Regions from separate parts of the Homo sapiens genome. Here region 2 is linked to region 1. The links come from fine-mapping of genetic effects on gene expression. A gene starts in region 1. The other region holds a variant in brackets. All regions are shown on one strand. Distances are between the middles of the regions.

Region 1 (10,517 bases):
GCCTTCAATACATATTTTTAATAAGGCATATAATGTTATGTGCAACAAACTGACAATTAAACGAACATGTTTTTATAAAATACTGTTTTCAGTTTGGCTGGGATATCTCTACCCACAAGTTACAGAAAATTCAACTCAAACTGGCTGAAAAGCAGGAAGGGCCACAATGACTCGAGCGACTGAGTGCAGAAGCAAGACGGCATCGGGGCTGCCCTGACCGAGACAAGCCTCCATCTCCTTGTGCTTCTCCCAGCTCTCCCCTGCCCTGTATGTCAGCTTGCCCTGCGCTGTGAGTGGAGACACAGCTTCAGCCAGGAGAGCGACGATAAATGGCTTTTGGATCCTTCCTAGAGGGGCAAGGAAGCACTTCCCCAGAACCTTCCACCAAACTCTCCCTGACTCTCACTGGGCCAAACTGGGTCACGTGTCCATTCCTGAACCAATCACCAATACGTGAGCCCGGCCTAGGGTCTGCTTCTCTGACGCATACTTGGTATGTGTGGGATGGGGGCAAAACAAAACGGGGTTCTGTTTGGAGGAGGCTGTGGGATAGACAACCCAGAACACTCCGACAACCCACAGATGACTTCTGAGCTCTGACCACAAGTACATGATGATGCAAGCATTGTACGAGTGTCTAGGAAGAGGGAACGGAGTGAATATGAGCATCCCTCACAGGGAGGTAAAGACGTCCCAACACCAAAAATATCTCAACACAAACAAACATGTAAGGAAAAAAAAAAGTACACCGACTGCTTCCACTCTGACCCTGCTATTACAGCCACAAACTCAGTGGTCTAACCAGAATGTGAGATGAACAAAAAAGGGCAAATAAGTTAGATAATGCTGTATCTGAAATGACACCAGTCTCAATACTTCACCTTCAATAAGAAGCTTCCCAGCGCTGAAGCCACACTGTACACATGGTTTCTTTCTTTCCTTAAGCATCTGGCACCAATGACAGCCTACATTTGGGGGCCAACACAAACGTGGAGCCTCCATCAATCCAGCCTCCTTGCGTGGATGTTTCTAGAGGCATACTAAAATACACAGAGCTAGCTGGGTGCAGTGGCTCACACCTGTAATACCAGCACTTTGGGAGGATGAGGTGGGTGGATCAGCTAAGGTCAGGAGTTCGAGACCAGCCTGGCCAACATGGTTCAACTTTGTCTCTACTAGACCAGGTGCAGTGGCTCACGCCTATAATCCCAGCACTTTGGGAGGCTGAGGCGGGCGGATCACGAGGTCAAGAGATGGAGACCATCCTGGCTAACACAGTGAAACCCCGTCTCTTCTAAAAATACAAAAAAAAAAAAAAAAATAGCCAGGCACGGTGGCGGGCGCCTGTAGTCCCAGCTACTTGGGAGGCTGAGGCAGGAGAATGGCGTGAACCCGGGAGGCGGAGCTTACAGTGAGCCGAGATAGAGATAGTGCCACTGCAGTCCAGCCTGGGTGAAAGAGCGAGACTCCATCCGGAAAAAAAAAACAAAAAACAAAAAAAACAAAACAAAACAAACAAAAAACTTTGTCTCTACTAAAAAAAAAAAAAAAAAAAAAAAAGAAACTGTCTCTACTAAAAATACAAAAAAATTAGCTGGGTGTGGTGGCACGTGCCTGTAATCTCAGCTAGTTGGGAGGCTGAGGCAGAATTGTTTGAATCTGGGAGGCAGAGGTTGGTTGCAGTGAGCTGAGATTACGCCATTGCAGTCCAGCCCTGGGCAACAAGGGCAAAACTCTGTCTCAAAAGAAAAAAGTAAAATAAAATACACAGAGCTCTGTTTTCTATGTTACTGTGGTAATCAGGCACATGCCACTCTTGCTGGTCATCCCAAACCCTAAGGTCTTTTTCTCATGAAAGATGTTGCTGCTAACATTTCTACCCTCTACATTGCTCCTATGAGCTAACACCTTTTACATTTCAGTCCTTTATTCCAAACTGTCAAGATCTTGATGCCGTCACTCACTGTATCACCAGCGCCTCCCAGTGCACCTCACCACCAGCATATATCTGATATGCATACCTCGTCCATCCCAATTCAAGCAGTGACAAAGGACTAAAACATGGCGGATGGTGGCATGTCACACAGCCCTGCCTCTGACCAATGAATCATTTCTAAGAATGCATTCCTTTATTAGTCACCACAGTGCTCACATCATCCTATGAAGCAGAGGAATCCAACAGGGAAGGTTTCCAACACTTCTGGAGACATTCTCAGATAAATGGTTATCTACAGAAAACTGTAACACATATAAAAAATATGAAGAATAGGTGATCAGACGCGGTGGTTCACCCCTGTAATCCTAGCATTTTGGGAGACCGAGACGAGAGGATCACCTGAGCCCAGGAGTTCAAGATCAGTCTAAGCTATATAGCAAGACCCTGTCTCTACAAAAAATAAAAATAAAAAAAATTAGCCAGGTATGGTGGCACGTGCCTGTACTTCCAGCTACTTGGGGGTTGAGAAGAGAGGATTGCTTGAGCCCAGGTATTTGAGGCTGCAGTGAGCTATGATTGCGCCACTGCCCTCTAGCCTGGGCAACAGAGCAAGACACTGTCTCTAACAACAACAAAATAGTTGTAACCCTCACAATGTAAAAATAAAAGGGACCAGGCGCGGTGACTCACACTTGTAATCCTAGCACTTTGGGAGGTCGAAGCGGGTGGATCACGTGAGGTCAGGAGATCGAGACAAGCCTGACCAACATGGTAAAACCGCATCTCTACTAAAAATACAAAAATTAGCCAGGCGTGGTAGCGGGTGCCTGTAATCCCAGCTACATGGGAGGCTGAGGCACAAGAATCACTTGAACCCAGGAGACGGAGGCTGCAGTGAGCAGAGAGCACGCCACTGCACTCCAGCCTGCGCAGCGGAGGGAGACTCTATCTCAAAAAATAAAAATAAAAAATAAAAGGATCAATAGCCTAGTCTAAAATTGGGCAAAAGATCTGAACAGACATTTCCGCAAAAATGATACACAAATGAGCAATAAGCAAATGAAAGGATGCTCAACATCATTAGTCACCAAAGAAATGTTCCTCAAAGCCATGAGACAAAAAACAAATGGCCTGTGGCCCCAGCTATTCGGGAGGCTGAGGCAGGAGAATCACTTGAACCCGGGAGGCAGAGGTTACAGTGAGCCGAGATTGCGCCATGGCACTCCAGCCTGGGTGACAGAGTGTGACTCCGTCTCAAAAAAACAAAACAAAACACAACAAAACAAAATCATGAGCTACCACTTCACATTCACTAGGATGGCTATAATTAACAAGTCATATAATAAGAGCGTTGGGCAATTAGAACCCTTATACACTGCTGGTGGGAATGTAAAATGGTACAGCTGCTTGGAAAAGTCTGGCAGTTCCTCAAAAGGTTTCACAGAGCATTAACACATGATCCAGCAATTCACTCCTAGGTACACACTCAAGAGAAATGAAAACATGTCTGTATAAACACTTGTATGCGAATGTTCATAGCTGCACTATTCGTAATAGGTGAAAAATGGAAACAATCCAAATGCCTACCAAATGGCAAAGGGATAAATAAAATGTGGTCCATTCATTCGATGCTCTTATTCAGCCATCAAAATGAAGTACTGATACATGCTAAAACATCGATGAATCTTGAAGACATTATGCTAAGCTTAAGAAACCAGACCAAAAGGCCACACAGTGAATAAATTCCACTTATATGATGTCCACAATAGGCAAATGTACACAGACAGAAAGCAAATTAGTGAATGCTTAGGGTTGGGAGAGTTTGGGGAAAATGAGGAGTGACTGCTAATGGGTATGGGATCTCTTTCTTTCCGTTTTGTGACAGAGTCTCCACTCTGTCACTCAGGCTGGAGTACGGTGGCATGATCTCAGCTCCCTAGCAGCTGGGATTACAAGCATGCACCAACATAATTTTCTCTATTTTTAGTAGAGACGTAGAGATGGGGTTCCACTGTGTTGGCCAGGCTAGTCTCATGCTCCTGGCCTCAAGTGATCCACCCACCTCGGCTTCCCAAAGTGCTGGGATTACAGGTGTGAGCCACTGTGTCCCGCCTGGTACAGGATTTCTTTCAGGAGTGAAGAAAATGGTATAAACTTGATGATGGTGATGGCTGCACAACTCTGTGATTATATTAAAAACTGTTGAATTGGAAAGTTTACAGAAGTGAATTGTATGGTATGTGAATTATATCTCAATAAAGCTATAAAAAAATAGGTATCAAATAGAAAAGGCTACTTTTTACCTCTCATGCTGACACACATGATGGCTGACACAGTACATATGACAACTGCCAGGAGAATCATGAGGACGATCAAGTAACTGCTGAGCAAGGCTCCACCAGCACAGTCCAGCTTTCCTCTGTGCATGAGATACAACGTCAGAATGCCAATCCACCTGGCAAAAAAAAAAAAGGGAAGGGTCAGAAATGAAATCCAAGGAGCTGCTGTGTAGAACATGATACAAAGAAATAAAAGGGGACAGGGCGCGGTGGCTCACACCTGTAATCACAGCACTTTGGGAGGGTGAGGTGGGCGGATCACAAGGTCAGGAGATCGAGACCATCCTGATCAACATGGTGAAACCCTGTCTCTACGAAAAATACAAAAAAAAAAAAAAAAATAGCTGGGCGTAGTGGTGCGCACCTGTAGTCCCAGCTACTCGAGAGGCTGAGACAGGAGAATTGCTTGAACCTGGGACGTGGAGGTGGCAGTGAGCCGAGATCGTGTCACTGCACTCCAGCCTGGGCAACGATATGAGACTCCGTCTCAAAAAAAAAAAAAAAAAAAAAAAAAAAAAAAAAGAAATAAAAGGAGTTAATATTTTCCAAAACAAGGCAAGGTTCACTTTGGAATATAATTTTCTTTTTGTAGAGACAGGGTCTTGCTATGTTGCCCAGACTGGTCTTGAACTCCTGGCTTCAAGTGATCTTCCTGCCTTGGCCTCCCAAAGTGCTGGGATTACAGGCATGAATCACTGCACCTGGCCTGGAATATAATTGCCAACAATAAAAGATCTAGGCCCGGCACGGCGGCTCACGTCTGTAATCCTAGCACTTTGGGAGGCCAAGGCAGGAGGATCACTTGAGCACAAGAGTTGGACACTAGCCTGGGCAACACGGTGAGACTCCATCTCTACAAAAAATAGAAAAAGTTAGCTGGGCGTGGTGGCACGAGTCTGTGGTCCCAGCTACTTGGAAGAGTGAAGTGGGAAGATCGCTTGAGCCCAGGAGGTTGAGGCTGCAGTGAGTGGTGATCGCACCACTGCACTCCCGCCTGGGTAGCAGAGTGAGACCCTGTCTCAAAAAAATAAAAAGAAAAGGGGTCTCACTATGTTGCCCAGGTTGGTCTCAAACTCCTGCCCTCAAGCAATCCTCCCGTCTCAGCCTCTCAATGTGCTGAGATAACAGGCGTGAGCCATGGCGCCCAGCCAAGAATCTACTTTTGCATAACAATGATTCATTCCCTGCACAGATCCTCTGGGAACAGACTTCAGGTACCAATGCCACTTCCCACTGATTCCACACTTTGAAAGACAACAGCGTTGTATGTTGAGCCTGTCTGCTTCTCACGAAATGCAGCCACAACCGGCTCGGTATTTTTTCCTATCCTTCGTGTTGCAGATTCAAGTGCCCCGTACAAAGGGAAGGAAGGGCACAAGTGGCTGCTCCCGCCTCAAGAAAGGAGAACTCGAGGCCAAGGCTTTTGCCGGCGGTAACACCCTCGTGGCACCCCAGGGCCAGGTCTCGGCGCTGCACACAAAGGGGTGCTCGCGTCCTGCTGCGCGGACTTCGAAACCCCCTGTTTGTCCCCCGGGGTCAGCCCACACACTCTGGGGGCTTCGGTTTGTCATCCGTCAAATGGACACAGCACCACTGCCCACCTCTTCGGGCAGTGGTGAGAACTCGATAAGAGGATGCGTGGCCAGCGCTGGGACCGCGACAGTGCTTGGGAAGCCACTTCTGTCACCGTCTCAAGGGACAGCTCGCCCCCCGCTCCCTCTCCGGTGGGCTCCACCGCCCCCGTAGCCGCCGTCCTTACCACAGCACTCGCACGACCAGCTCGAAGAACCCTGGGAAGACCAAGTCGTCGCTGGCGATGGCCCAGCGCCGGCCGAAGAGTACCATCCCCGGCATGGCGAAGGTCCCGTAGCTCGCACTCAGGAGAGACCCCGCGCGCCGTTCACCGAGAACAAACCAGCACCCTCCGGACGCCGCCACCAAATTATCGGCGCTCAAGCGCAAACGCAGCGAGGGCGGGGACCTGCGCATGCTCACGCTGAGGCCGAGATCGGCGCAAGCGCACTGAGCCCTACACCGCCTCTTCCGCCGGAGCTGTCTGCGCCTGCGCAGAAACGCTGATCCGGAAGGCGCTGGCTGAGTCGATTGCAGGTCTGCCGGTCGGTGAAATCCGTTCTGGTATTTTCTTTTTCTTTTTCGTGAAGAGTGCAGTGATATCCGTTCTGGTGATATTTCCTTTTCCTTTTTTTTTTTTTTTTTTTTTTTTTTTTTTTTTTTTTTTTGGTGACGGAGTCTCGCTCTGTTCCCAGGCTGGAGTGCAGTGGGTGTGATCTCGGCTCACTGCATCCTCCGCCTCCCGGGCTCAAGCGATTCACCTGTCTCAGGCTCCGGTGTAGCTGTGATTACAGGAGCGCGCCACCACGGCTAATTTTTGTATTTTTAGTAGAGACGAAGTTTCACCATGTTGGCCAGGCTGGTCTCGAACCCCTGACCTCAAGTGATCCGCCCGCCTGGGCCTCTCAAAGTGCTAGGATTACAGGCGTGAACCACTGCGCCCGGCCCTGTTTGTCTGTTTGTTTAAGGCAGCGTATGGCTCTGTCGTTCAGGGTGGAGTGCAGTGGCGCAATCATGACTCACTGCAGCCTTGAACTCCTGAATGCCGCCTTGAATTCCTGGATTCCAGCGACTCTCCCACCTCAACCTCCTGAGTAGCTGAGACCAAAGGCACGTGCCACACTCCCGGCTAATTTATTTTTATTTATTTATTTATTTATTTATTTATTTATTTAGAGACATAGTTTTGCTCTTGTTGCCCCAGGCTGGAGTGCAATGGCGCGATCTTGGTTCACCACAACCTCCATCTCCTGGGTTCAAGCGATTCTCCTGCCTCAGCCTCCTGAGTAGCTGGGATTACAGGCATGTGTCACCATGCCCAGCTAATTTTGTATTTTTAGTAGAGATGGGGTTTCTCCATAAATTTTCCTATTTTTTGTAGAGACCGGAGTCTCACTCTGTTGCCCAGGCCGGTCTTGAACTCCTGGCCTCAAACCATCCTCCCGCCGCAGCCTCCCAAAGTGCTGGTATTACAGGCGTGAGCCACTACACCTGACCGAAATTTTCATTTTATAAGGAGGGACGCTTCAGGCCTGGAGGAATTAGCTAGCCTAGAGACCCAGGCTGTCAATGGCAGGTGTGGGACTCATATCCCGTTCTGTGAGACTTGCAAGCATGGGACAACATTGCTTCCATCTGTGCCCCTTGCTGTAAGGAGCCCGTGTTAGGAACCCCTCGAGTTCAGGGTCTGAAACCACCCTGCAGCTGGCGGGGTGGAGTCTGAGCGCTTTTCAGTACCCCCACTGCCCCACCCTGGTCTGAGCCACCTTCATCTCCTGCCTGGGCTCATCACCCCACTGTGCTTTCTCATTCTGCTGTGCCCTCTTCAGCAGCCAGGGTGACTTTGTGAACCTTCAGATAAAGCCTGCACCCTGCCTGGGACTTTGCAAGGCTGCACTTTGTGCATAAAATTACATTGCAGGCCAGGCGCGGTGCCTCACGCCTGTAATCCCAACACTTTGGGAGGCTAAGGTGGGCGAATCACGAGGTCAGGAGGAGATCGAGACCATCTTAGCCAACATGGTGAAACCTCGTCTCTACTAAAATTTAAAAAAAAAGTTAGCCAAGTGTGGTGGCACGCACCTGTAGTCCTGGCTACTTGGGAGGCTGAGGCAGGGGAATCGCTTGAACCTGGGAGGCAGAGGTTGCAGTGAGCCAAGATCGCGCCCTGCACTCTAGCCTGGCAACAGAGCAAGACTCCGTCTCAAAAAAAAAAAAAAAATTACACTCCAGCCCCTGGCAAAGGCCTTTCCCTGGTAGTCACACATCAAAAGTTTGTAAGGGCTCATTTATCTGTCTCCCTGGTTACTATTTGCCTCTATCACCCACCCCACTGCCTGCCGCCTTTTCCCCCTCTGAAAAGACATCAGGGTCATTTTTGCTCCAGGGGTTCTACATTCTGTGTTTCCTCTGCCAGGAATAGCCCCCCTGCAGGTTTTCTGTTACTGGATGGAAAGTCTTGGCTGTGAGTTGGTCAGGGGCTTGCGTGTTGAACCGAGAATTGCAACACAAGGCCGGGCACGGTGACTCACGCCTGTAATCTCAGCACTTTGGGGAGGCCGAGGCGGGTGGATCACCTGAGGTCAGGGGTTCAAGACCAGCCTGGCCAACACGGCGAAACCCTGTCTCTACTGAAAATACAAAAACTAGGCCAGGCACGGTGGCTCATGCCTGTAATCCCAACACTTTGGGAGGCTGAGGCAGGAGGATCACCTGAAGTCAGGAGTTCAAGACCAGCCTGGCCAACATGGCGAAACCCCGTCTCTCCTAAAAATTAGCTGGATGTGGTGGCACATGCCTGTAATTCCAGCTACTCCGGAGGCTGAGGCAGGGGAATCGCTTGAACCTGGGAGGCGGAGGTTGCAGTGAGCCAAGATCGCGCCCTGCACTCTAGCCTGGCAACAGAGCAAGACTCCGTCTCAAAAAAAAAAAAAAAATTACACTCCAGCCCCTGGCAAAGGCCTTTCCCTGGTAGTCACACATCAAAAGTTTGTAAGGGCTCATTTATCTGTCTCCCTGGTTACTATTTGCCTCTATCACCCACCCCACTGCCTGCCGCCTTTTCCCCCTCTGAAAAGACATCAGGGTCATTTTTGCTCCAGGGGTTCTACATTCTGTGTTTCCTCTGCCAGGAAGAGTCCTCCTGCAGGTTTTCTGTTACTGGATGGAAAGTCTTGGCTGTGAGTTGGTCAGGGGCTTGCGCGTTGAACCGAGAATTGCAACACAAGGCCGGGCACGGTGACTCACCCCTATAATCTCAGCACTTTGGGGAGGCCGAGGCGGGTGGATCACCTGAGGTCAGGGGTTCAAGACCAGCCTGGCCAACATGGCGAAACCCTGTCTCTACTGAAAATACAAAAACTAGGCCAGGCACGGTGGCTCATGCCTGTAATCCCAACACTTTGGGAGGCTGAGGCAGGAGGATCACTTGAAGTCAGGAGTTCAAGACCAGCCTGGCCAACATGGCGAAACCCCGTCTCTCCTAAAAATTAGCTGGATGTGGTGGCACATGCCTGTAATCCCAGCTACTCGGGAGGCTGAGGCAGGAGAATTGCTTGAACCCGGGAGATGGAGGTTGCAGTGACCCAAAATCACACCACTGCACTCCAGCCTGGGCAACAAGAGCAAAACTCCATCTCAAAAATAATAAATAAATAAAAATTGCAACAAAAACCCCACAAAGCAACAACGACAACAACAAAAAACAAATCAACAAAAGACAAACAAATGGCGTAAAAAGCACAGATTGATTGACACGAAGTTCAAGAGACCACACAGCTCAAGAGACCCCTCAATTAGGGTCTTCATTAAGCAGAAAGAATGTGGTTAACACTCATGGCTGAAGTGGAAACTTCTGTCTTGTTATCACAGAAGTGCAGATGTGGCCTCTATGCTGCCTTATCTTGCCCAGAACTGGCTGCACCTGCTGATCTTTTGCTTATGCCTTAACCCTTGTTAACCATTGATTACCCTCATTCCTGATTCTCCTGCCTCATTTCCTTTTTTTTTTTTTTTGAGATGGAGTCTTGTTCTGTGGCCTAGGTGGGAATGCCATGGCGCGATCTGAGTTCTGCAACCTCAGCCTTCTGAGTTCAAGCGATTCTCCTGCCTCAGCATTCTGAGTAGCTGGGATTATAGGCATATGCCACCATGCACAGCTAATTTTTGTATTTTTAGTAGAGACAGGGTTTTGCCATGTTGGCCTTGGCTGGTCTCGAACTCCTGACCTCAAGTGATCCGCCCACCTCAGCTTCCCAAAGTACTGGGATTACAGGCGTGAGCCACCGCACCCAGCCTCTCCTGCCTCTTTTTTTGTTTTTGTTTTTTTTGTTTTTTTTGAGACGGAGTCTCGCTCTGTCGCCAGGCTGGAGTGTAGGGCGCGATCTCGGCTCACTGCAACCCCCGCCTCCTGGGTTCAAGCGATTCTTCTGCCTCAGCCTCCCTAGTAGCTGGGACTACAGGCATGGGCCACCACGCCCGGCTAATTTTTGTATTTTTAGCAGAGACGGATTTCACCATGTTGGCCAAGACGGTTTCGATCTCTTGACCTCGTGATCCACCTGCCTCGGGCTCCCAAAGTGCTGGGATTACAGGCATAAACCACCGTGGCCGGCCCGATTTTTGTATTTTTAGTAGAGACAGGGTTTCGCCATGTTGCCCAGGCTGGTCTT
Region 2 (10,531 bases), 21 kb before region 1:
ATGTGAATGACCCGGCAGAGCGCCCGTGGGGTGGGCCTGCCTCCTGAGACCCTGGTGCGCACTCTCTGCTGCTCTGAGCTTTGATGAAGCTGTTCTTCACCATGAGAATGTACTACCTGAATGAATTCAGAGGCTGGGTGTGGTGGCTCACGCCCGTAATCCCAATACTCTGGGAGGCTGAGGCAGGAGGATTACTTGAGCCCAGGAGGTCAAGACCAGCCTGGGCAACACAGGGAGACTGCCTCTCAGAAAACACACACAGAGAGAAGGAAAAGCCACAGAGCTGGGCTCAAATGCCCAACCTGCTACTTATTCCAGTAGCCACGCGACTTTGGGCAAGGCACTCGCTCTCTCTGAACAGGCTTCTCTCTCTTAGAACAAACGAAATCCCACAGCCTCCCAGGGCTGCTGTGAGAATCAGGCAGCGCGGGAGGCGCAGGCAGCGCGGGAGGCGCAGGCAGCGCGGGAGGCGCAGGCAGCGCGGGAGGCGCAGGCAGCGCGGGAGGCGCAGGCAGCGCGGGAGGCGCAGGCAGCGCGGGAGGCGCAGGCAGCGCGGGAGGCGCAGGCAGCGCGGGAGGCGCAGGCAGCGCGGGAGGCGCAGGCAGCGCGGGAGGCGCAGGCAGCGCGGGAGGCGCAGGCAGCGCGGGAGGCGCAGGCAGCGCGGGAGGCGCAGGCAGCGCGGGAGGCGCAGGCAGCGCGGGAGGCGCAGGCAGCGCGGGAGGCGCAGGCAGCGCGGGAGGCGCAGGCAGCGCGGGCTCTGTGCAGTCCCTGACCCGAGGCACCCATCTTCTGTGTGGTCAGCATTCACAGGCAAGACACACGAGTCCGCGCTCATACCTTGTGTGCCAGGCGGTCCTGCACCTCACACTCCACGTCCAGCACCTCACTCTCCGCTGACAGGTCCGTAAGGACATCCTGTAAAAAGGGCGTTGCAGAAGCGGCCGTCAGCCTGTGATGGGCAGGGTGGGAGAATGACAGGTGGTCCCTGCTCCTGACACTTCTGTGGAGGATGGCGGGGATGGCACCATCTCCTAGTTCGGTCCTGGGACTGAACCCTAAACTAAAGAGGGAAACCCAGCGGTGGCTCCTGAGGGCCCTGATGGCACGACCAGCTCTGGGCCAGGCGTGAAGGGTGGAGGGGACCATGGAGTGTGCCTAAGACACGCCCTGCGCCTTCCCCATCACACACACGTATTCTAAGGACCCCGTGGCACAGAACCTGTGCCAGGGTTCTGAACAAAGCCTGGTTCCCGTCCTCAGGAGCCCCGTAACAGGTGAAACCGTGGAGAGGAGGAGGCCTAGACTAGCACCACAGCAAGGGCCAGGCAGTGCCGAGTCAGAGGATGGGGCACAGCCCAGGCGCAGGGGCAGCTCCCTGGAGGAGGTGACGCCACAGCCAGACCCGAAGGAAGAGGTTGTTGTGAAAGCAGAGAGGACAGGCGGCGTCCTCCCAACAGGGGCAGCAGGACCCGCTGGCTGGGGCCCTGGGCACGGCTCCACACCAGCCATATTTGAAAAGGTCCACAGGCGAGTGCTGTGCTGCTGGGCTGGAGGCCCCGGCAGCAGCGTCCAGGCTGCGGAGTGGGCATGGGGGAGGCTGCTGGGTAAAGCACCCAGAGCTGTGATAAGAAACACAAACTTGATGTTAAAGACAGTGGGCCCAAGCATAGAAAAGCGCAAAAACACATCCTCTGCAGCAACGGATGCAGCTGCGGGCCATCATCCTCAGCGAATTAACGCAGACAGAGAAAAGCAAACACCGCATGGTCTGATGCGACGGTGGAAGCTCAACATTGGGTATTCATGGACACAAAGAGGGGACAATAGACACTGGGGCTACTAGAGGAGGGCAGGGGAAGGAATGAAAACCTAACCACTGGGTACTATGCTCAGTACCTGGGAGACGGGATCAACAGTACCCCAAACCTCAGCGTCACACAGTATACCCAGCTACAAATCTGCACATGTACCCTCTGAATCTAAAATAAAAGTTGGAATTAAAAAAAGAACATTTAAAGATAAATCCATAAAGGCAATGGGAAGCCACTGGAGGTATCTGAGCAGGACGGTAAGATCCGATCCGTGTTCTAGAGTGAGTCCTTGGTGGACAGGACAATGGACAGACGCTGAGGTGAGTGGATGGCTACAGCCCAGGAGTCCAAGACCAGCCTGGGCAACATAGTGAGATCCTGTCTCTACAAAAATAGAAAAAATTAGCTGGGTGTAGTGGCACATGCCTGTATTCCCAGCTACTTGAGAGGCTGAGGCAGGAGGATCACTTGAGCCCAAGAGGTGGAGGCTGCAGTGAGCTGACTGTACCATCGTACTCCACCCTGGGCAACAGAGCAAGACCCTGTCTTAGAAACAAACAAACAATCAAACAGACTGGGGAGATGAGACTAGACAAGGACGGAGATGGGAAGCTAGAGGACTGGGGCCAAAAGCGGGGCCATGGCGCTGGAAATGGAGAGAGGGCCACATAGGCTGGGGCAGGAAGTTCACACACAGCAGACAGGGCGCACAGAAACCACAGACGACGCCACTGCTTCTTTTGAGACAGAGTCTCGATCTGTCGCCACGCTGGAGTGCAATGGCGCAATCTCAGCTCACTGTAACCTCCACCTCCCGGGTTCAAGCAATTCTCCTGCCTCAGCCTCCTGAGTATCTGGGATTACAGGTTCCCGCCACCATGCCCGGCTAATTTTTTTTTTTTTTCTGAGACAGGGTCTCACTCTGTCTCCAGGCTGGAGTGCAGTGGTGCAATCTCGACTCACTGCAACCTCCGCCTCCCGGGTTCAAGTGATTCTCCTGCCTCAGCCTCCTGAGTAGCTGGGACTACAGGAGCCCACCACCATGCCTGGCTAATTTTCTGTATTTTTAGTAGAGACGGGGTTTCACCATGTTGGACAGGATGGTGTCGATCTCTTGACCTTGTGATCCACCCACCTTGGCCTCCCAAAGTGCTGGGATTACAGGCGCCACTGCTTCTTAAATGGGCAATGGGGGGACGATGGCAGAGCTGACGTGAACAGGGCGCCCCCCGGGAGGAGCAGCCCTGTGGGAAGTGTGGCTTCTCTGGTGCCTCCCGGGAGACCCACAGATGGCTCCTGAAGATGCAAGTTTGGGGTCCTGGCCCTGGACTTAGGGGGGCTACCCCAGAGCCAGTCAGGAGCAGAAGAGGGCTGAGCACACAGGCTCTGGAGTCTCAACTCATTTTCTGGGTCAGCAGAGAAGAACGGGAAGTGAGACTGAGGAGTGGCCAGGAGGAAACCGGAATGGAGAGAAGAAAGCTTTGACAAGGAAAGCGTCACCTGGCATCTCCAAGGGGCCCAGGAGTATGGACTGAGGAAGACAGAAGAGGGGCCATGGGCTGGGGATGGATGTCGGCAGTCCTGACCTCACCTGGAGAACGGCAGGCCACGAGGGCCTGTGAGGATCCAAACCGGGAGCCTCCAGCGGGGCTGGTGGCCAGGGGCGTGACTCTCTGCAGCAAGACTGACTCACTGCCGCCATCTGGCTCTGGTGCAGAAATTCCCCGGGAGGGCTCCCGGGTGTGGGGCCTGGCTGGGCTCAGGGAAGTTAGGCAGGGAGGGGTCAAGCAGGTGCCCTCTGGGAGCTCCTGTGGCGGGGGGGCCAACCTGCTGGCCGCTCTGCTGCTGACAGTTCTCAGTGAAGATGAAACAGCTTCATCCCTTTTTGCAAAGGGAGTATTTCCCAACCCCAGGCTCACATCCTCATTTTCTGTCCTCACCATTTTCCCCTGTGTCTCATGCGGTTACTGACGGATTTCCCCAGCCGAGCAGCTGTGGGCTCCCGCTCCCGCACCCACTCCCAGGGCTGGAAAGTCAGGTTCCAACGTTACCTGCAGAGACATGGTCCCCCTCACAGCGACCACAACAGACTCTTTCCTGTGATCCAGAGCCACTAAAAACGGCAGCTCGTAAACCTGCAGGAGCAAGAAACAAGCATGGGGCCTAAACAGTGAACACACGCACCAGCACGCAAAGTCGGAGCCCTGCAGTGTCTGCAATGACAGCCCAAGTCCTGCGGCACAGAGAGGAGGGGACACCGCCTCTCCACTCACGCTCACTACACAGTGGGACCCACTCTGGCAGGGACTGGCCTTCATAAACCATGCTGCTCTACATGAAAAAGGATCTTTGTTTTCTTAGCCTCTCTCTGACCTCCCCAGAGATTCGGATTGAACTGGCCCAGGGTGCGGCCTGGACCTCAGCAGTGTTAAAAGCTCCTCAAGAGGTTCTACTGGGCAGCAAAGTGGGAGAGCCGCCGATCTGCGCCAGCAGGCCTCCCGCTGCGGTGCCTATGAGAATCACCTGGAGAGACAGCGAGCGACACTGAACACGCAGCACTGCAGCCATGCACAGCTGGCTTTTTTTTTTGAGATGGCATCTTGCTCTGTCACCTAGGCTGGAGTGCAATGGCGCAATCTCAACTCACTGTAACCTCCGCCTCCCGGATTCAAGTGATTCTCATGCCTCAGCCTCCCGACCAGCAGAGACTACAGGCGCCTGCCACCACGCCCAGCTAATTTTTGTATTTTTAGTAGAGATGGGGTTTCACCATATTGGCCAGGCTGGTCTCGAACTCCTGACCTTATGATCCACCCGCCTCGGCCTCTCAAAGTGCTGGGATTACAGGCGTGAGCCACTGTGCCCGGCCCACAGCTGGCTTTTGCAGCTTCTCCCAAGGTGACAGTGACCCCCCCAGAGTGCCAGACCTGCTACACTACACTACTGATGGCACTCACAACCCAGGACGACGATACGAATCCCAGAAGGCCATGCGGCATTAATACTGAGGGATTTCACTCCTCAACAGAAGGGCGAGGTAAGAAACACAGCGCGCTATCTCTGATGAAGACGTCTCTATCTTATGTGAAACCTGGGTTCTGAACCTGCACCAGGGCATCTGTGTGGCTCCCCCAGAGTCTGTGGCCCCTCTGAAATAGTACACAGGACTTAGAAGTGTGTTTGTGTGTCTATGAATTACGGGAAGAATAATTCATAACTTCCATCAGAATCTCTAACAGCTCCAGGACCCAAAAGAAGTGAAGAGCCGCTGTCTGCAGCGTCCACACCTTGTCATGGAAGCTGACGTGGATGAAGTCCCTGTACTGCAGCCCTGTGGTGTGCAGGATGGAGCCGAAGTGACAGTTGAGCTGATCGCCTCCGACCAAGTCATAGTCTGTGGTTCTGCTTCTGCAGCTAAAAAGAGGACAAAGACGTTACTATGCCGAACAGAGCCACTTGGCAAGGAACGTCCATCCTCACTGCCACATGTTCCCAGAGACGCGAGGACCAGAGCGGACAATTCTCAGGACTTAGCCTGGCTGACATGGAATGGCTTTTTAAAACTTAATTTGATCGACTGACTGATTGAGATGGAGCCTCACTCTGTCACCCAGGCTGGAGTACCGTGGTACAATCTCAGGTCACCGCAACCTCCGCCTCCCAGGTTCAGGCGATTCCCCTGCCTCAGCCTCCTGAGTAGCTGGGATTACATGCGTGCACCTCCATGCCCGGCTAGTTTTTGTATTTTCAGTACAGATAGAGTTTCGCCATGTTGGCCAGGATGGTTTTAAACTCCTGACCTCAGGCGAACTGCCCGTCTTGGCCTCCCAAAGTGCTGGGATTATAAGCGTGAGCCACTGCACTGGGCCCGGAATGGCTTATTAAAGATAATACCTCTCTGTGTACACTTCTTGGATAGAGTTCTGACTTCTGGCATCATGTTAATGATTTCTATATTCAAAAAATTCATCAACAAGGATGGGCAAGTCCCTAAAACTGAATGCCAACAGAAGCAGGTAAAGCAAACCTGTCCAAATGAACAGCACAGCCAACTCCGTAGAAAATAAACAAGAAATCATAGAAGTAACTTTTGAGTACTGTGCTCTACGTTTAAAAAACAAAAAGAGGCCGGGCGTGGTGGCTGATGCCTGTAATCCGGCACTCTGGGAGATCGAGGCAGGTGGATCACCTGAAGTCAGGAGTTCGAGACCAGTCTGGCCAACGTGCTGGAACCCCACCTCTACTAAAAATACAAAACTCAGCCAGGTGTGGTGGCAGGCGCCTGTAATCCCAGCTACTCGGGACGCTGAGGCAGGAGACTTGCTTGCAACTGGGAGGCAGAGGTTGCAGTGAACTGAGATCGCGCCACTGCACTCCAGCCTAGGTGACAGAGTGAGACTCCGTCTCAAAAAATACAATTAAATTAAATTAAAATAAATAAAAATAAAAACTAAAAAAACTACAAACACATCGCAAACTGTACTTAG[C/T]AGATGCCCTTTTTGTAGTGGAACTGGGTATAGCAATTCTGAAACTATTTTCTTAGTAATAGGGGACTGAGCATGGGTAACTCACGCTGATGTTGCTGGGAGCCAAGCTTCTCTTTGCAGACATGATGTGGAGAAGCAAAGAGAAACTCTGTGGCTTTGGACTAGAATTAAAAGATATCAGGGCCAGGAGACTGACACCCATGATGCCAGCACTTTGGGAGGCTGAGGCGGGAGGATCGCTCAAGTGTTGGAGACCAGCCTGGGCCACAAAGCAAAACTGTCTCTAAAAAGAAATTTATTAATTTAAAACATTTTTAAAAATTATCTGGGTCTGGCAGTGCATGCCTGTAGTCCCAGCTACTTGGGAGGCTGAGGTGAGAGAACCCCGTCTCTTAAAAGACAAACAAAAAAAAGATATTAGTAAAATCTCATGATCTTTAAAATAAATACATAGGCGTGGTGGCTTACACCTGTAATCCCAGGACTTTGGGAGACCGAGGCAGGTGAATCACTTGAGCCCAGGAGGTTGAGGGTATGGTGTTACAGTAAGCCGTGATGATACCACTATACTCTAGCCTGGGCAACAGTCCCAAAAAAAGAAAAAGCAAAATCCAGAGGTTAGGAAGTGCTCAGAACATGATGGGGTCATATGAAAAGAACACTGGAGCCAGTCTGCAGGACAAAATCTGGAACATTTTGAGCATCAAATAAACACTGTACTTAATACAAAATAAACAGTCATAATTACAACCCACTGAATAATTTAAGAATCTATAAATCCATATTGACAGTAAGATGTAGGGATAAAAAGCTCTTTTTTATAGGAGAATGACAATTAATGTAGAAGAAATGATGAATTTAGAAAAATCACAATTTTGGCCAGGTGCGGTGGCTCATGCCTGTAATCCAACCACTTTGGGAGGCCAAGGCGAGTGGATCACCTGAGGTCAGGAGTTCGACCAGCCTGGCCAACACAGCGAAAACCTGTCTCTATTAAAATTACAAAAAACTAGCCGAGTATGGTGGTGCAGGCCTGTAATCCCAGCTACTCGGGAGGCTGAGGCAGGAGAATCACTTGAACCTGGGAGATGGAGGTTGCAGTGAGCCAGGATCCTGAGACTCTGTCTCAAAAAAAAAAAAAAAAAAAAGAAAGAAAGAAAGAAAAAGAAAAATCATGATTTTGCCACCATCCTGGTAATAAGTGATTCAGACAAGAATCAATGGATGCTGTACTGCCAGATGAGAATTCAGAGAGGGATAGGACATTTACTTACTTGTTTTTTGTTTTGTTTTGGTTTCTTTTTTTTTTTTCTTTTTGAGACAGAATCTTGCTCTGTTGCTTAGGCTGCAGGGCAATGGTGTGATCTCCACTCACTGCAACCTCCAACTCCCTGGTTCAAGCGATTCTCCTGCCTCAACCTCCCGAGTAGCTGTGATTACAGGTGTGTGCAACCATGTCCAGCTAATTTCTGTATTTTTAGTAGAGACGGGGTGTCACCGTGTTGGTCAGGATGGTCTTGAACTCCTGACCTCAGGTGATCAGCCCGCCTTGGCCTCCCAAAGTGCTGGGATTATAGGCATGAGCCACTGCACCTGGTGGGATATAGACATATATATTTATTTAATTTATTTTTTAAGACAGCGTCTTGCTCTGTCACTCAGGCTGGAGTACAGTGGTGCAACCCCAGCTCACTGCAACCTCAGCCTCCTGGGCTCAAGTGTTTCTCCTGCCTCAGCCTCCCAAGCACCTGGGACTACAGGTACACACTGTTACACCCAGCTAATTTTTATATTTTTAGTGAGATGGAGTTTTGCCAGGTTGCCCAGGCTGGTCTCAAACTCCTGAGCTCAAGTGATCCGCTGGCCTCGACCTCCCAAAATGCTGGGATTACAGGTCTGAGCCACCACGCCCGGCCTGGGACAAGATATTTAAATGGTCTCAAGGCTGGCAGTCACCACCTCAGCCAAGCAATCAATGTTAATATAACCAGAAATGGGACAAACTGGCATCATGTATCCCCTGATATGATACACTAGGAAGGATGGTTGTCATGGACCATTCCCGCCAAAAATGCAAAACATAAATCTAATCATGGGGAAACCATCACACAAATGCAAATTGAAGGCCCTTCTACAAAATATCTGCACTGTCCTCTTCAAAATGTCAATATCATGAAAGGAAAGAACGGCTGAGAAACTTAAAACTTGAAGGAGACCAAAGAGACACAGCAACTAGATGTAACGCATCATCCTGGATTGGAGAAAAAAATTGCTAAAAAGGGTATTACTGGGGCTGGGCACAGTGGCTCACACCTTGTAATCCCAGAACTCTGGGAGGCTGAGGCAGGCAGATCACTTGAGGTCAGGAGTTTGAGACCAGCCCGGTCAACATGGGGAAATCCTGTCTCTACTAAACATACAAAAATTACCTGAGACCGGGCCTGGTGGCTGACGCCTGTAATCTCAGTACTTTGGGAGGGTGAGGCAGGTGAACCACAAGGTCAGGAGTTCCAGACCAGCCTGGCCAACATAGTGAAACCCCGTCTCTACTAAAAATAGAAAATTAGCCGGGTGTGGCCGGGCGTGGTGGCTCATGTTTGTAATCCCAGCACTTTGGGAGGCCGAGGCAGACGGATCACGAGGTCAGGAGATCGAGACCATCCTGGCTAACACGGTGAAACCCCATCTCTACTAAAAATACAAAAAATTAGCCAGCAGTGGTGGCGGGCGCCTGTAGTCCCAGTTACTCGGGAGGCTGAGGCAGGAGAATGGCGTGAACCAGGGAGGCGGAGCTTGCAGTGAGCCGAGATTGTGCCACTGCACTCCAGCCTGGGCAACAGAGTGAAACTCCATCTCAAAAAATGAAAATTAGCCGGGCATGGTGGCGGGCACCTGTAATTCCAACTACTCAGGAGGCTGAGCCAGTAGCACCGCTTGAGCCTGGGAGACGGAGGTTGTGGTGAGCTGAGATCACGCCACTGCACTCCAGCCTGGGCAGCAAGGGTGAAACTCTGTCTCAAAAAGAGAAAAATAAAATGGTTCGGGGAAAAAAAATACATGTGCATATATATATATATATATATATATATATATATGCAGGGGGGAGGGAGGGAGGGAGAGAGAGAGAGAGAGAGATACAGCGCATGTGACCAGATGAGTCACAGCTGGTGACTCTAGGTAAAGGATTCATGGGAGTTCTTTGCACTGTTCTTTCAAATTTTTGAAATATCTCAAAATAGCTTTTTTTTTTAAGGGAAATATGGCTATGGAGGCTCAGACTGTGCCAACCCACCAGTCACCACCAATCCTGCACAGCCCCGTGAGGGGGTTTCTGTAGATGTAGAGGGGCCACCCATAGGCCGCTGCTGCAAACTGCATGTAATGATGGCAGTTTTCTAATTCTGCATCCAGATCAGCTTCCTACAAGAGAAGGACAAAAACTACTGTTTATTAAGGGAACTCCTGACACAGAGGATCAACACACTGAGACCTGAAACCTGAACTCATTCCTGACTCTTCCTGCTCCTTCGTTGAATAGAACTCTCAGACGCCCACAGGCAAAACTGCTCCTTCAATAAGGATGACATGGACTCCTCATTTTTTTTTTTTTTTAGAGTCTCGCTCTGTCACCAGGCTGGAGTGCAGTGGCACAATGTCAGCTCACTGCTACCTCCGCCTCCCAGGTTCAAGCAATTCCCCTGCCTCAGCCTCTCAAGTCGTTGAGACTACAGGCACCCGCCACCACACCCGGCTAATTTTTGTATTTTTAGTAGAGACGGGGTTTCACCATGTTGGCCAGGCTGGTCTCGAACTCCCGACCTCAGGTGATCAACCTGCCTTGGCCTCCCAAAGTGCTGGGAAGCCAGGCGTGAGCCACCACGCCCAGCCTGACTCCTCATTTTATAGGAACACAGCAAGCACGGGGAAGTTAACAGTAAAAAACACTCCAATGACTTCTCTGCTGTTTTTGCTGAAATGAGCCGGCGCTTCCTATCTAGATGCCTGAAACTAGTACATTTCCATGCCACTGCCACACACGAGCTGTCAAGAACTGAGTGGCTTAACCCGGAGCAGCGAAGATACATACCGTCTACGTGCAATTTTCTTTCTCAAAAACATAACAACCTGTGGCAGGAAAATTATCACCAAGCAAAGCTGAACTGCTTCTGCCCCCAGCCCCAGAGAAGAAAGCAAACACACCCAGGGAGAATCGCAGTCCCCATCCCAGGAGGA

Evidence for each region. PIP is the estimated chance that this variant, and not a neighbour inherited with it, causes the effect.
Region 2: its variant is fine-mapped to the expression of DAGLB in whole blood (TOPMed, PIP 0.95).

What each region holds. Positions count from the first base shown.
Region 1 is chr7:6,441,714-6,452,230 of GRCh38, forward strand. It overlaps DAGLB (diacylglycerol lipase beta), which reads right to left and starts at 6,241. Exons shown (of 15, transcript NM_139179.4): 1 at 6,035-6,241; 2 at 4,240-4,391. The coding sequence starts at 6,129. RefSeq lists an enhancer at 6,449-6,498.
Region 2 is chr7:6,420,890-6,431,420 of GRCh38, forward strand. DAGLB (diacylglycerol lipase beta) reads right to left here. Exons shown (of 15, transcript NM_139179.4): 6 at 9,591-9,718; 7 at 5,099-5,225; 8 at 3,863-3,946; 9 at 838-915. Among named protein-coding and RNA genes, the nearest start is that of DAGLB, 22 kb to the right of the region's middle. RefSeq lists an enhancer at 3,631-4,130. The variant C/T (reference allele first, on the strand shown) is at 6,299.